2 linked regions of the Homo sapiens genome follow. The protein of the gene in region 1 purifies or fractionates together with the protein of each later gene. This does not show direct contact. Each region holds a gene or a part of one and is shown on either strand. Other genes may lie near its edges.

What was found. Proteins that work in one complex are often made in the same cells at the same time.
Region 2: the proteins of MMS19 (region 1) and PRIM2 purify together in Homo sapiens (affinity purification with western blotting; 5 studies listed by BioGRID and IntAct, with this or other methods). This does not show direct contact.

The regions. Positions count from the first base shown.
Region 1 is NC_000010.11:97,494,995-97,502,784, reverse strand, and holds the start of MMS19 (MMS19 nucleotide excision repair protein homolog), read left to right. Parts: upstream 1-4,362; 5' UTR 4,363-4,400; coding exon 4,401-4,512; intron 4,513-7,790. Other genes in the region: UBTD1 (ubiquitin domain-containing protein 1), read right to left, coding at 3,512-3,581. UniProt on the Homo sapiens protein: Key component of the cytosolic iron-sulfur protein assembly (CIA) complex, a multiprotein complex that mediates the incorporation of iron-sulfur cluster into apoproteins specifically involved in DNA metabolism and genomic integrity.
Region 2 is NC_000006.12:57,320,630-57,327,629, reverse strand, and holds part of PRIM2 (DNA primase large subunit), read right to left. Parts: intron 3,430-7,000; coding exon 3,350-3,429; intron 1,706-3,349; coding exon 1,585-1,705; coding exon of another isoform or gene 1,567-1,584; exon of another isoform or gene 1,263-1,566; intron 1-1,262. UniProt on the Homo sapiens protein: Regulatory subunit of the DNA primase complex and component of the DNA polymerase alpha complex (also known as the alpha DNA polymerase-primase complex) which play an essential role in the initiation of DNA synthesis.

The sequences.
Region 1 (7,790 bases):
ACCTCTCCCTTCTCCCTAATGCAAGAATCCCTGACCAGACAGTATTGTGTCTCTGCTTTGTCTACCAAGTGACTAAGAAGGCAGAACTAAGGACAAAGGGTGACATTACAAGCCATAAAGATTTCACCTCAATAACTTTCTCGCTTTAAACAGCTGCCTTTGTGAAGATGATAAAACAGCTCTAATGATCTTGTATAACCCTCCCCCTTTCTGAAATATTGAAAGTGTGACCCAGAAAGGTTAGATGACTTGCCCAGGGTCACTGAGTTATAGGCCCAGGACTAGAACTCAGGTCCTAGCTCCCTGTTGAGGCTTTCTTCCCATTACATTAGTGCCAAAGGAAGGTAAGAGTTACAGTGGCGCTGGGGGAGTTTTAGGCATTAGTCTTACAACGTAAAACTATGTCCTTGTCAAAGGAAAAGCCACAGATGTTACAGGAATGCCAGGTGCACTGTGGAGTTAAGAAGGATTCCTTCCCTTGTACCAAATTTGTCATCCTACAGAGTTCCCCTCGGCTTTGGACTTTATGAATAAAGCTATTCATAGTAGGACCCACAGAACTAAAGCAATGATAAACTAGCAGGTAAAAAAAAAAATGCAGATATATGAAAAATGCAGATGGTAGGATGAAGTTGAGTTTGCTTTCTAAAATCAACAAATACTGAGTGCTACTTCTGTACAACTCATTGTGTTAAGTGCTGAATGTGTGTGTGTGCGTGAGAGAGACATATACTACAAGGATAAGACAGAACCCAGGTCTTCAAGGCTTGCAATGTAGTTGCTGATAAAAGACTGTAAACATCAAAGACATGATTAATAATACAGAGTACATAATTGTTAAGTAAGTGGCATAGATAATGTGTCTGCAGGAGTTCTCAGAAGGAGCAATCACTTCCACGGGGTGTGTGTGGTGGGGTGCGGAGGGAGGGGGAAATGGCAGACTTGTCAGGCAAGGTGCTTCAAACAAGGCACGGCACTTGAAATGAACCCAAAGGATGAAAGACTCTCGATAAGAAGGAAATGGCACGAGCAAACACTGGTGGTCTTAATGTCAGAGAAGGGAAAGAAATCAGGACTTAAAAGAAAGGACTGGCCCACACTTGAACAGCCTTGAAAGTTAAAGTACTTGTAGGAGTGGGAAAATGCAGAAAGGTGTTTTGTTGTTGTTGTTGCTGTTGTTTTGTTTTTTTTTGAGACAGAGTCTCGCTCTGTCACCCAGGCTGGAGTGCAGTGGCGCAATCTCAGCTCACTACAACCTCTGCGAAACTTCCAGTTCAAGCAATCTCCCTGCCTCAGCCTCCTGAGTAGCTGGGATTACAGGCGCCTGCCACCACCATGCCTGGCTAAGTTTTGTATTTTTAGTAGAGACAGGGTTTTGCCATGTTGGCCAGGCTGGTCTCGAACTCCTGATCTCAGGTGATCCACCTGCCTTGGCCTCCCAAAGTGCTGGGATTACAGGCATGAGCCACCACGCCTGGCCAAGTACAGAAACATTCTGAACACAGAACTATAAAATCTGGAAGAAGTTAATTTAACAAATGTCTTCTGTGGGGACAACTGTGTGTAGGACTGAATGATGACTGAAGATGAAGTTGCCTTTGGGGGGTACCTCACTTCAGCCTGAGACAAGGGTTGACTTGAGGTGAGAAGGGTACAAAGTAGGGTGGCAAGGGGCAGGTTTGCAAGTCCCGCGGAAGGAAGACCCAGCAGACCCCAATGACTGGCTGAGAGGCAGGCGACAAGGAAGCAGAGAAAGTCATGAGAGAAAGAGCTCTTCACAGCCTAAAGTTAGGCAGCTGGAAGAACATAAGAGTAAAGAAGGAAAGCTGGTGGACAGGGAGCGATGCAGAGCCTGGTTTTGGAGGTGTTAAATCTGGGAATATCTATATCACAGTGTCCAGTGGGCATCTAGAGATGGGGTTCTGGGGTTCAAGAGAGAAGAGCTGAAGTTTAAGCATAGGGGTATTCCCAATGGACAAAGAGTTGTGGGACTGAACAAGATTTCTCTGGGAGAGAGTGTAATGAGAGAAAAAACAGAATGTCAAACTTAAGCACCAGCGTGCCCCCAAGCTAGAAGGTGATGGTGGAAAGGGGTGTTCAGAAAGGAAAACCAAGACAGTCTGATGCCAAGAAAGGAAGGGGGGGAATGTCTCGTAGGAGAGAGTTGTCAACAGCAAAAAATGCTGCAAAATCAATTATGGGGCCTGAACACATATTTGTTGAACAAATGAATGAATGAAAGCAAGCCAGCCCTTGGTTTTGAGAGTCATCTCTCCTCAGCCAGAAGAATGGCCAGAGTTACCTTCAGACAAGAGAATTTCAATAAGTTTTACTGCATCCTTCCCATAAAAACACATTTCTGCCTCCACAAGTCATCCTGTCCACCATGCAGACATCCTTCCCTGCTTCCCCTGGTTCCCCCATCTTCCTTCCCAGTTTCCGCAACCCAAGCAACACACCTTCGGTGTCAAGGGAGACAGGAAACTCCAACTAGAGTTTCCACTTCATTAACAACTCTGCCTGTGGCTCCTCTTACATAAGGGGATATGTGGCAATGGGGTGGGAGAGGAGGCTGAGTTCTAGCCCCAGGTGAGCTCCTAACTAGCTGTGTGACTTTGGACAAGGTGTTCAACCTCTCAGGATCTGGGCTTTGACACAGAGTAGGAGATGGGTCCATCTGGAATCCAGACAAGTTTGAGCTCTCAAGTCTACGATATTATTCCCAGCGGGTCCTTGCAACACCCTCAAAGAAGGAAGTGAGTGTAAGACCCAGAAAAATGACCGACAGACCTCTTCCCGGGGCGAAATGCCAGGGCAGGCGGGGTGTACCATGAAAGTGAGAAAGCGTTGCGCGGGCCTGGAGGATCACCAGCGAGCGATCTCACTCCCAAAGCTGGGAAGGATCCCAACAATCCCAAGGGTGACTCTCACCCCGCACCCCATCTTTTATAGACTCCCAGACGGCCGAGAGGCTCTAAAAACCCCTGCGGGAAAAATAAAGATTTCTTTCCCAGAGTCCTGCGCTGCTTTGCAAGTCGGATTCCCGCAGACACGATCTGCAGCTCGATAATGACACAGTCTTTGGAAGGAGCGACTGTTCTCGCCTCGCTCGCTCCGAGTTCTGGGGACGCCTGGCTGCCCGCGCCGTGCCCCGACGGGCCGGCGTCCGACCCCGGCCGGAGCTGCCAGGCCAGCGGCGCCCTCGCCCCCGGCCTCCTCCCGATCCGTCGGCCCCGCTGCGGTCTGCAAACATTTCCTGCCCCCACCCCCACCAGGAGCTACCCAGTTGGAGAGAGTTGGTCGCGCAGCCGGCTCAGTGCTCGCAGTTGCCCCAACTCAGCTCCCCCGGCCGCCCGGCGCTGGGGAGCGGCCCCCTCTGGCTGCGGAGCAGCCCATCGGGGAAACCCAAGCGCCAGCACCAGTGGGGAGTCCATCGGTAAGCCCAGGACTCGGGCGAGGAGGGGGACAACTGGCGGGATGCCCGAGGCCCTGCTCCCTTCCCCATCGTTACCTGCTCGCTTGCGGGGGTGTCCCGGGGCTGCCGGCCTCTCCCGGCGCTGTCTCCCCACGCAGTTGCCCATGCTGGCTCCTCAGCCAGTCCCCATGCACCGGAGGCGGCGGGGTGGTCGGCTGCTCAGCGGACGGCGGCGTCCCGGGTCAATGGCTCCGGCCGCCCGGCATCGGGCGCTCCCCGATCTCCCCCCGGGGGCGCGCTCAGCCCCAGCGATGGCTCCGCCAAAACTTTGCGGGCCAGGGGAGAGAGGGAAGTGGCAGACTCCCCAGCACGGTCCCAGGTGGCCGGGCCAGGGGGGCCCGCGACGGTGCCCGGCCGGAGACCAGCTCCGCTGGAGGGGCGGAGAGAGGGGGCGGGCACCGCCGCAGCTACTCCCGGCTCGCTCGGGGCACCAGGCAGGGGCCGGCCCCCTGGAGCCTGTCACTCACCTGCCTAACCCCGCCCCAGGCCGGCCCCTCTCCCTTCCGCCGGCTCGCGGTGCCCGCGCCGCCGCCACCACCCGCCCCAGGTGCGCATGTGACCGACAGCACCGCCCCCTAGGGCTGGGCCTGATTTTCTCATTGGCTTCCCCCGTGGTGCGTACCGCCCCTCTCCCCACCCAGCCAGGTGCCCGCCCCGCAGCCCGTCTCCCGGGGAGCCGGGCTGGGAATTATTCGCCCTCAATCGCCTCCGGCTGCGTGCCCAGCAGCCGCCTTCCCTCTCGGTGCCACCGCCCCATTTCAGGCCCCGCCCCTCCCTGGAACTGCCTAGGCAGAAGCCGGCAGGCACGTGACCCCGGCGCCCCGCCCCCTTGCGCTTCCCCGGAGATTGGCTCGGGAGGCGCATGCGCGGAGAGCCCGTCTCGAGCCACCGCCCATATCCCCTCCCACGGTCTCTAGTTCGCGTTATGGCCGCTGCCGCGGCTGTGGAGGCGGCGGCGCCTATGGGTGCCCTATGGGGCCTCGTGCACGACTTCGTCGTGGGTCAGCAAGAGGGCCCCGCTGACCAGGTGGCTGCAGGTACGGCAGACGGCGCCGCGCGCCTTCCGCATGGGGGCCAACAGGAGGGAGCGGCCTCAGTACAGGCGCCGGGCGGGAAGGGAGGAGCGGGGTGACTTTGAGAGATTGGTCTCAAGGCTGGTTAGTGAGCACCGCGAGGTTCAGAGCCGTAACAAGTTAGAGAGTTGCCTGTGTCTTCCTTAAAACCATTTACACTTCTCATCTCCCTGTAGCCAATTATAGGGAATCATTACATTTTACAGATGAGGAAACTGAGGCTCAGCGAGGGCAAGAGGACTTGCGCAGGGCTGCAGACCAGGCAGGAGGGGGAGGTGGGACTCGGACCCAGGCGTTCAGGTCCGAACCGGGTGCTCACGCCACGAAGCCATGCTGTTTGTGGGAGGTTGACGTGTGGAGGTGCATCCTCGCAGCGTCCGCTCCCGTCGCGTGGCATCCTGGGAGTGGCAGATGGCCCCGCGCTCTGACTGGCTGGAATTAAGAGGAGTTGAGGAGACGGGCCAGGAGGAGCTGGAGATGTTCTGGGTGTCCTCCTTAAGACTTTCTCTCCGTTTCTTGCTAAAGTTCTTGATTAGTTTGCTCCATGACGTTTTATGTGGCGTTTGTTTTTGTCTTCTTCCCAGACCCCCACTTTCCTGCTTTTGACCAGTTCAGAGATCTCTTAGTTCAGACAGCTTATCTAAAATTAGAATAAAACGATTTCCAGGCTTCCGTGGAGTTCTGAGACTTTGCTCTTCTAGGAAAAAAAAAAAACTACTAAAAAGTTATTGAATGTTAGGAGGCCTTCAGATCTTGGGTTTAAGTAACAATATAAAATTATCTAATGAGTAGTTTTTTTAAAAAAACTTTGGAAATTTCGTATGCTTGGAGAGAAGTAAGGACACATTTCTCTTGGATATTGAGCGTATTAACCTTTAGAATATGTAAGAAAAGAATAGTGAATCTGCTAGAAATATAATACTTTGTTCGTTAGCAGTATTCCACTTTAATTCAATCATGCCACTATTGTTGAATACATATTATTCCCCAAACATGATGCAAAGCAATAGGAATATAAATACAAATTAGGTTAGATCTGTGCCCACCAGGAACTTATAGTATGCTGGGAGAGGCAACCATTCTGTAAGAGGTGTGTGCAGCGTAGTTTGGAAGCATCAAGGAGCAAATACCTGGTGCTGCCACCAAACTTAACATCTTACAATTTTATGAAATGTAGTGTGTTATCAGTGTTTACAATTTACAAGTACAGTGTCTTACCAATGTCATTTTCCCTCATATTTTATTATGAAAATTTTCGAATATCCAGCCAAGTATAAAGAATTTTATAAGGAGCACATCACTTAGGATCTATCCTACCATTAACATTTTAATATTACTTGCTTTATCATATAGCTATCCATCCATTTAAATTGCAGATACCTGTACACTTTCCTTTAAATACTTTGGCATGCATGTCATTGACTAGAGTTTGTTGACGGTTTATTTTGATGTAAAATGGAATATATAAACCTTTAAGTGTACGTTCACTGATTTTGACTAATGCATACACCTATACAATCCAACCCCCTACGAAGATATAGAACATTACTATATCAGTGTCATTTGTGATGAGTCTTTCACATTTATGCGATACGAAAACAATAATTTTGGATTTTTTTTTGATTCAGAACATATTTTGAAAAGACATCTTGAATGTCTTATCTTGAATAAGGACTTATCTTGAATAAGGACTGCAAATTCTTCTCTTTTTTTTTTTTTTTTTTTGAGACAAGGTCCCTCTCTGTCTGCCAGGCTGGAGTGCAGTGGTGAAATCATGGCTCACTGTAGCCTCGACCTATGCTCAAGCAATCCTCCTGCCTCAAGCCTCCCGAAGTAGCTGGGACAACAGGGAGTGTGCCACTGCGCTCGGCTAATTTTTGTATTGTAGTGACGAGGTTTCACCATGTTGCCTAGGTTGGTCTCTAACTCCAGGACTGAAGCCATCCTCCCATCTCAGCTTCCCGAAGTGCTGGGATTACAGGCATGAGCCACTGGGACTGCTAAATTCTTACAAACGTTTTTGCAAAATTTATATTTTTGTTTCTTTCTGAAAAAAAATGGTCTAAACTGTTGCTTAATTTGAATTCAACTCAACTGATTTAAGACTGTAACACTAGCCCTGTTGTAATTTAGCCCTCCTAAGAAAAGAAAGTTGGTGGTGGGCACAGTGGCTCACGCCTGTAATGCCAACACTTTGAGAGAACAAGGTAGGCGGATTGCTTGAGCCCAGGAGTTTGAGACCAGCCTGGCCAACATGGTGAAACCCCGCTCTACTGAAAATACAAAAATTAGCCAGGCATGGTGGTGCATGCCTGTAATCCCAGCTACTCAGGAGGCTGAGGCTGGAGAATCGCTTGAGCCTGGGAGGCAGAGGCTGCCGTGAGCGGAGATCGCGCCCCTGCACTCCAGCCTGGGCAACAGAGCGAGACTCCGTCTCAAAAAAACAAAAAGAAAAGAAAGTTGGTACAAAGGAATAGTAACAGATAAAAGTTGAAAAGGTTTGGTAGGGTTGGATTGTGTATAACTTTGGATTCCAGGCAGAGAAATTTGAATGACCTGTTATCTGTACTAAGAGTTGTTGTAGATCCTTGAGCCAGGGAGCCATAAAATGAAAACAAATTTGACAAGGATTAAGTTAATATTGTCAATCTTAGATCACAGCCCTAGTTAGGGTTGTTGAAGGATAACAGAGTGTTGAAGCGTTTATAGAATAAGATGTGCTTTCTAATCTTTCAGCCTAAATCAAGCTTTGTTAGCGCTAAAGGGACCAGCTAGCTTCCTGTTCAGTCACTCAGAGTAGCAGCCTGCAAATTTAAATGCAGAAGGAGCACCCTTTGATCACAAAAGCAGCTGCTGCCACCTTTGTTTTGTACCTGGGTTCCTGGTGAAAGTGTCAGCTGTAAAGAAGCTGCAGGCGATGGGAGGGAAATAACCTGGCAGCCTAAGGGTTAAAGGCCTCTTGGGCAAGCCTTCAAAGCCTGCCACTACCTGGCCCCAGCCTTTTTTTCTCACTGCTCCCTGGACGTTTAATTCCAGGCAGCCACCTTTATTCGTAGTTCCCTGAGTGCTTTCCTTCCCAATTCCCTTCACTAGCTCTGTGTAATCGAAGTTAGACCTGAGAGTCAAGGCCCAGCTTGAGTTCCCTACCCCTCCCCAAGGGTTTCCTGATTAACCCAGCCAGACAGCATCTCATACGTCAGAATCTTTGTAGTACGCACTTATTTCTCAACCACTCATGTATT
Region 2 (7,000 bases), on another chromosome or scaffold:
GGAAGATGCAGTGGGTTTGGTTCAGATGGTACCATGCATGACATCTGTCTATGCAAAGGTAGATGTGACTTAGAAACCTCATGAAGTAAATGAAAGAAACTATAGAAACTGCCTACCTAGCATATATTTGACACTAAACGTCTACAAAATGTTTGTTCACTTCCCTTCACAGTCTCTTTTCCCTAACTCATATACTCCATAGTGTTCCTTGCTACAGTGGATATGTCTTCTACTTGTCAGACAGGACAATGTCTTTCACCTATTGCAACTTCTACTTTTTTATTTTATTTGGCTTTAAGCCACGCATTCCAACAACAAAATAGAGTCTCTGCCAGTCCTACTACCATCTGACTGCTCTAAAACTTCCAAAACATAATGTTTCTACATTCCCATTGTGGCATATATCTACCTAAAAGACATAAATTCTAGGCCCGGCACGGTGGCTCACACCTGTAATCCCAGCACTTTGGGAGGCCGAGGCGGGTGTATCACCTGAGGTCAGGGGGTTCAAGACCACCCTGGCCAACATGGCAAAACTACGTCTCTAAAAATACAAAAATTAGCCAGGCATGGTGGCACACACCTGTAGTCACAGCTACTCAGGAGGCTGAGGCAGGAGAATCGCTTGAACCCAGAAGGTGGAGGTTGCAGTGAGCCGAGATCAGGCCACTGCATATTCCAGCCTGGATGACAGAGTGAGGCTCCATCTCAAAAAAAAAAAAAAAAAAAAAAAAAAGATACAAATTCTATTTCCAATACTCATCCCCATTAAATGAGTCCCAAAGATCTCTTCTTTTTTTATATAATTACAATATGTAAATCATTCAGATATGTCTGCAAAATTATTTTTTAAAACTATTCATACAGATCTTACTGACATTTTTGATTTATGGTTTTTATTTTTTTTTTGAGACGGAGTCTTGCTCTTTCGCCCAGACTAGAGTGCAGCGGCATGATCTCAGCTCATTGCAACCTCCACCTCCCGGGTTCAAGCAATTTTCATGCCTTAGCCTCCTGACTAGCTGGAATTATGGACGCGCAGCACCATGCCTGGCTAATTTTTGTATTTTTTGTAGAGTGGGGGTTTCACTATGTTGGTCAAGATGGTCTCGCACTTTTGACCTCAAGTGATCTGCCCACCACAGACTCCCAAAGTGCTGGGATTACAGGTGTGAGGCACCACGCCCCGCCTGACAACTGACTTTTAAATAAAGTATTACCTCCTCTAAATTTCACGACTATAAATAAGAAACTACCACTTGTCTAGTTTAACACATTATTAGCTTTATTTTGGCCGACAAAATTTTGGTTAAAGATGAACCTTTATAAACTAAACCTTCTTGTGCTTTAATAAAGCACACATTTAACAGAGCAAGTAAGTGTGAGACTTTGTTATTAAGGAGTCCTTTTCTTCTAGTCATAGAGAAGGAAAGATATATTGTTATCCAAAGCTATTAGCTACTGTTTCAGGCAGGTACTTGGAGAATGTAAAGAGAACACACTACACATTAGTACCAGCACTTAAGACAGAAGGGAAAAATGAATGGTGAGAACAATTAGAAATAACTACAAAAATATACTTACAGCCTCAAACTGCAATTGGCTATCCTTTAAGAAATCCTGAATTTTATCCTTGGGTAAAATACTAAATCTAAATCGAAGGAGATCCATTTCTTGTTGAATGAACCAGCGTCTAAGTTCTTCACTGAAATGAAGACAGAAATTATGAGTACAAACTAAAAATCCAGTAATTATTAAATCTAAGAAATGTTTATAAAACAATATTCAAACATCAGCAAGATGCCAATGGACAGCAGTTAAAAACATGCAAGTCCTCTATCACGGTAAGGAGAATATCAATACCACATATCACAATCTTCTAAGGATGGGTTGGGTACAAGGTATAGGGGGTGTTAAAAATTAAAAAGATTAAATACAAGAATGCTTCGAGACTAGCTGCATTATTTTTAAATAACATAAAATACTTCATGCATTTAATGTAACTGCAAAATATTCATTTTATGTTAGAAAATAGGGGCTGGGCGTCGTGGTTCATGCCCGTAATCCCAGCACCTTGGGAGGTCAAGGCAGGCAGATTGCTCGAGCCCAGAAGTTTGAGACCAGCCTGGGCAAGTTGGTAAAACCCCATATCTACAAAAAAATTAGCCAGGCATGGTAGCATGTGCCTATAGTCCCAGCTCCTCAGGAGGCTGAGGTGGGAGGATCACCTGAGCCCACGGATGTTGAGGCTGCAGTGAGCCGAGATCACACCACTGTACTCCAGCCTAGGTAATGGCATGAGACCCTAGCTCAAAAAAAAAAAAGAGAGAGAGAGAAAAGAGAAAAAAAAAAGAAAATGGGGAAATGGGGCACTCCTTTGGCTTGAGGTGTCTTTATAAATGCCAAATAAAAGACACCAAATTTTTTAAGGCAACTTTGATCAGATTAACTTTGCAAAGGAAACTTTGCTTATGGCTTTATAATTGATAATTTCACAAAATTTAATATGCACATATATACCACAATATTTAAAAGCAATAACGTTCATTTATAAGGCAGATACTAATGGGCATTATCGTTATATAATAAAATAATTACCCTACTGGATGCAAAATATGATTTCACATTTTTAGGAGATTTTCACAGATTGTCAGCAACATATTTATTATATAAATTTCACAAACTACATATGCTTTTTTACAGAAGAAAAACTCTAGAACCAAAACTGGTAAGTAATTTCTCAATTATTATCTTGGGATAGTAAGCAATTCCAGAGTCTCACTTGATAAGCTTATTAATTTTAAAAAAAGACAGCCATAACTAAATTATGTGACCAAAATTAACATGTGAGGGAAAAACAATTTTTAAAAAAGCAACTAACTTTACTACCTCTGGGTGGCACTATTAACTTAAAAGAAACCAACTACCAAACAAAAATATCTTCGATTTAACTGGCCCATAGAGCTCAAATTCCAAAAACCTGTATCAAATTCAAGTGTGGGTTTCATTAATTGTTTCTTATAAATATTACCATTTTTTTGCAGGAAAAATATCAAAAGTCCTTCTTCCCAATAAAATCCTTTCCAATTTAAAATCCCAAATGAAGAGTCTATCTCACAAACTTAAGAAGTGTTTCATCAGGCAAAATTCTGCGATAGAATTTTTTTCAATATTTTTAAGTAAACAATTTCTTCCAAACAATTTACTGTCAGTGTTCAACCCCATGATCAACCGGCTCCTGATGTTATTCTGGGTTTTCCTATGTTTAGCACAACACATCAACTTACCACACACCAATTTATAACCCATGACACCAGATTTGACTGTGAGAATATAAACATATACTTACGACTGGCAATAAGCAAGCCGCAAAATAAAATGAGAAATATGATCTCTTCTTCGTGGTTCATATTCATCTTCTAAGTTTTCCTTAAAAATAATGACACATGAATAAAATAAATGCATTAGAATGGTAAGAGGTGTAAGGAAATACTGAGCCAGCCTAAGCCAATGGTAAAGTAAGTTTCAAAAACATTTCTTTTTTTAGAGATGGGGTCTTGCTCTACCACCCAGACTGGAGAGTAGTGGTCAATCACAGCTCACTGTAACTTCAAACTCCTGGGCTCAAGTGATCCTCCAGCCTCAACCTCCCAAGCAGCTGGGACTACAAGCGACACCCACCATGCCCCGCTAATTTTTTATCTTCTGTATGATGGAGTCTCAATATGTTGCCTAGGCTGGTTATGAACTCCTGGTTTCAAGACTCCTACTCTAGTCCCTCAAAGCACTAGAATTACAGGCATGAGCCACCACACCCAGTCCCAAAACATTTCTTTTTTTTTTTTCCTTTTTACTTTAAGTTCTGGGATACATGTGCAGAATGTGCAGGTTTGTTACATAGGTATACGTGTGCCATGGTGGTTTGCTGCCCGTCATCTAGGTTTTAAGCCCCACATGCATTAGGTATTTGTCCTAATGCTGTCTCTCCCCTTGACCCCAACCCCCTGACAGGCCCTGGTGTGGGGTGTTCCCCTCCCTGTGTCCATGTGTTCTCATTGCCAAAACATTTCTTAATATGCTTTTCAGGATAATTATCATTTACCTTAAGCTATCAATCAGATGAAACCGAGAAGTAAACTAATCTTGACAAAACCCCTTGAGTTTGGACCGCACTATTTTCTTCCCACCAACCCCTCTCTTTTAATTTTCTTCTTATCCAGCCTATATCCAAGGTGCTCACCACCTCAACCACTTCTTACACCAACCTCAGCTTCTTTAATTTCAACCATTTGGCAAAACCTAGATTCTTAATCTACAACTACACTCTGCAGTCCTATTCTCAAAATGCTAAGAACCTCTGGAGAAAAAACACAACTATGGGAATTTGGAAAATATAATTTCGTGGCCTATAATCTCAACTAGATCCTTACCAACAGTTGGATCCAAAATAATAAGAACAAACATGTCTTGAGCACTCACTAGGTACCAGGCGGTGCCCTAAGAATTTTTAAGGCATGAACCCATTTAATCCTTTAAAAAAAAAAAAACCCTATGAGGGAGGCACTACTATAATCTTATTTTACAGATAAGGAAACTGAGGCACAGAGAAGTTATGTAACTTGTTCAGGGTCACAAAGCTTGTCCAGAGTAAGCAGCAGTGTTGAGATTCGACACAAAATCATCTCCTTCCTCACTTCTCAGAAAATCGTCAGTCTTCACCAGTTGTCCCAAGACCCCTACTATAGCACCTTTCCCTTCTCTCTGAACAGATGACTTCACCTACTTTACAGAAAATAAAGGCTACCAGGCAGAATCCTTCAGTCCCAAGCTTCCGCATACACATGTTGTGTTGCCTTCCATACATCTCTACAAAGCATCTCCTCTTCCTGGCATGTAAAGCTACATTAGTCCATTCTCATGCTGCTAATAAAGACATACCCAAGACTGAGTAAACCCATAAAAGGAAAGAGGTTTAACTGACTCACAGTTCCCCAGGGCTGGGGAGACCTCAGGAAACTTACAATCATGGCAGAAGGGGAAACAAACACGTCCTTCTTCACATGGTGGCAGTAAGGAGAAGTGCTGAGCAAAATAGGGAAAAGCCCCTTATAAAACCATCAGATCTTGTGAGAACTCACTATCTAGAATAGCAGCATGGGGGTAACCACCCCCATGATTCAATTACCTCCCACCGGGTCCCTCCCATGACACATGGGGATTATGGGAACTACAATTCAAGATGAGATTTGGGTGGGGACACAGCCAAACCATATGAAAAGCTAATTCCTGCACCTAAACCCCGCAACCCATTTGCTTGTGCCTCTTAAAGACCCTGACTTATCAAATGCTCTCTCAAAGTTTCAACTTCAAGCTCCCCTCTTCCCCATTCTATTCTAGATCTTCTGCTCAGCTTATAAACATGTTTAAGTATCTCCTGTCATATATGTACAAGTGTGTGCTTGTATATCTTCTCTTTTCCCTAAAACAACCCCTATATTCTGCCCTATTTCTCTTCTCTTTTCAGCTACACATTTTAAAAAAGTACATCTTCTATATCCACCGCTCCACCTTCCTTCTCCAACCACTGTCATTGTTCTGGTCTCTGCCCCTATCTATAAGGGCCCATCCAGCTGCTAAATCCAATGGACACTGTACAATTCATCTTACATAATCTATCTTAAGCTTCTGAAACTATTGTGGTTAAAAGCACCACTACAGAAACAAAATACCCAGATTCAAATCTTGGCTCCACCATTTACCATCTTATGAGCTTGGGCAAGTTATTCAGTCTGTGAATAAATAGGCTGTATCTGTAAAATAGGGATGATAATAATACCCACCTCATAAGACTGCTGTATGAATTACATACATGGGTTAATATATGTAATGCACTTAGAACAAAATCTGGTACATAGCAAACATACTATTAATATAAATATCTGCTGTTATTCCCTATTATCATTATTAATATCATGATCATTATTATTGAAACTCTAGCCCTCCTTGGCTTCTATGACACTACTATCCTGGTTCATCTCCTACTTCTGAGAAAGCTCCTTTCCATTCTCCTTCCCAAATTCCTCCAATTCCACTTTACCTTCAATATTGGTATTCCTCATGTCTTAACTTCCACTGTCATCTCTTCTCACTCAAATATTTTTCTAGGGTGCTCTTACCTACTCCTGATGATTCCAACCTTCTGCTAAATCTACTCCCACCACATGTCTTCCTGTATATTCAGACCTGTATATCCAATTGTCCACTAGACATCTCCACAGGCACCTCAAATTCATGTTAAGAACTAAACTCTACGTCTTCCAAGACTTGCTTCTCCTCCTGCATATCACATCTCAAAATATTACCACCATCCACTAATTTTCCTAACTAGAAACCTGGGTGTCATTTATAACTCTTCTCTCTCCATTCCCCCTACAATCAGTCACTAAAACCTTTTGATTCTACCTTCTTAATGTCTCTTCAACCGGTCCCCTTCTCTCATTTAATTCAGACTCTCATCATTTCCGGGCTTCTAACTGGTTTCCCTCCTAACAGACATGACCCTGTCAATCTGCTGCTGGCAGTCATCTTCCCAAAATGAAAATCTAATCACATCTGTCAACATGCAGCTCCACTACTACCTCTTCTGGAAAGCCTTCCCAAACCTCCCCAATCTGAGCTGCATAATTATGTATGTTTTTGGAGTTCCTGGAGCATGCATCTATAAACACAGTCATCATCCTGTATTGCACGGGATACATTTGGCATGTCTGGAAATATGTAGGGGTAGAAGCCAGAGATGCTACTGAGCATCCTACAGTGCACAGAACAATCCCTGCAACAAGGAATTATCAGACCCAAAATGATGTTAGTCCTGAGGTTGAGAAACCCTGCCATATTATAATCATCTGACTTCATGTCAATCACCCCTAATACACTGAAGAACCTTCAGGCTAATGATACATTAGTCTTTATAAAAGCCCAGTGCCTAATATAATATCTT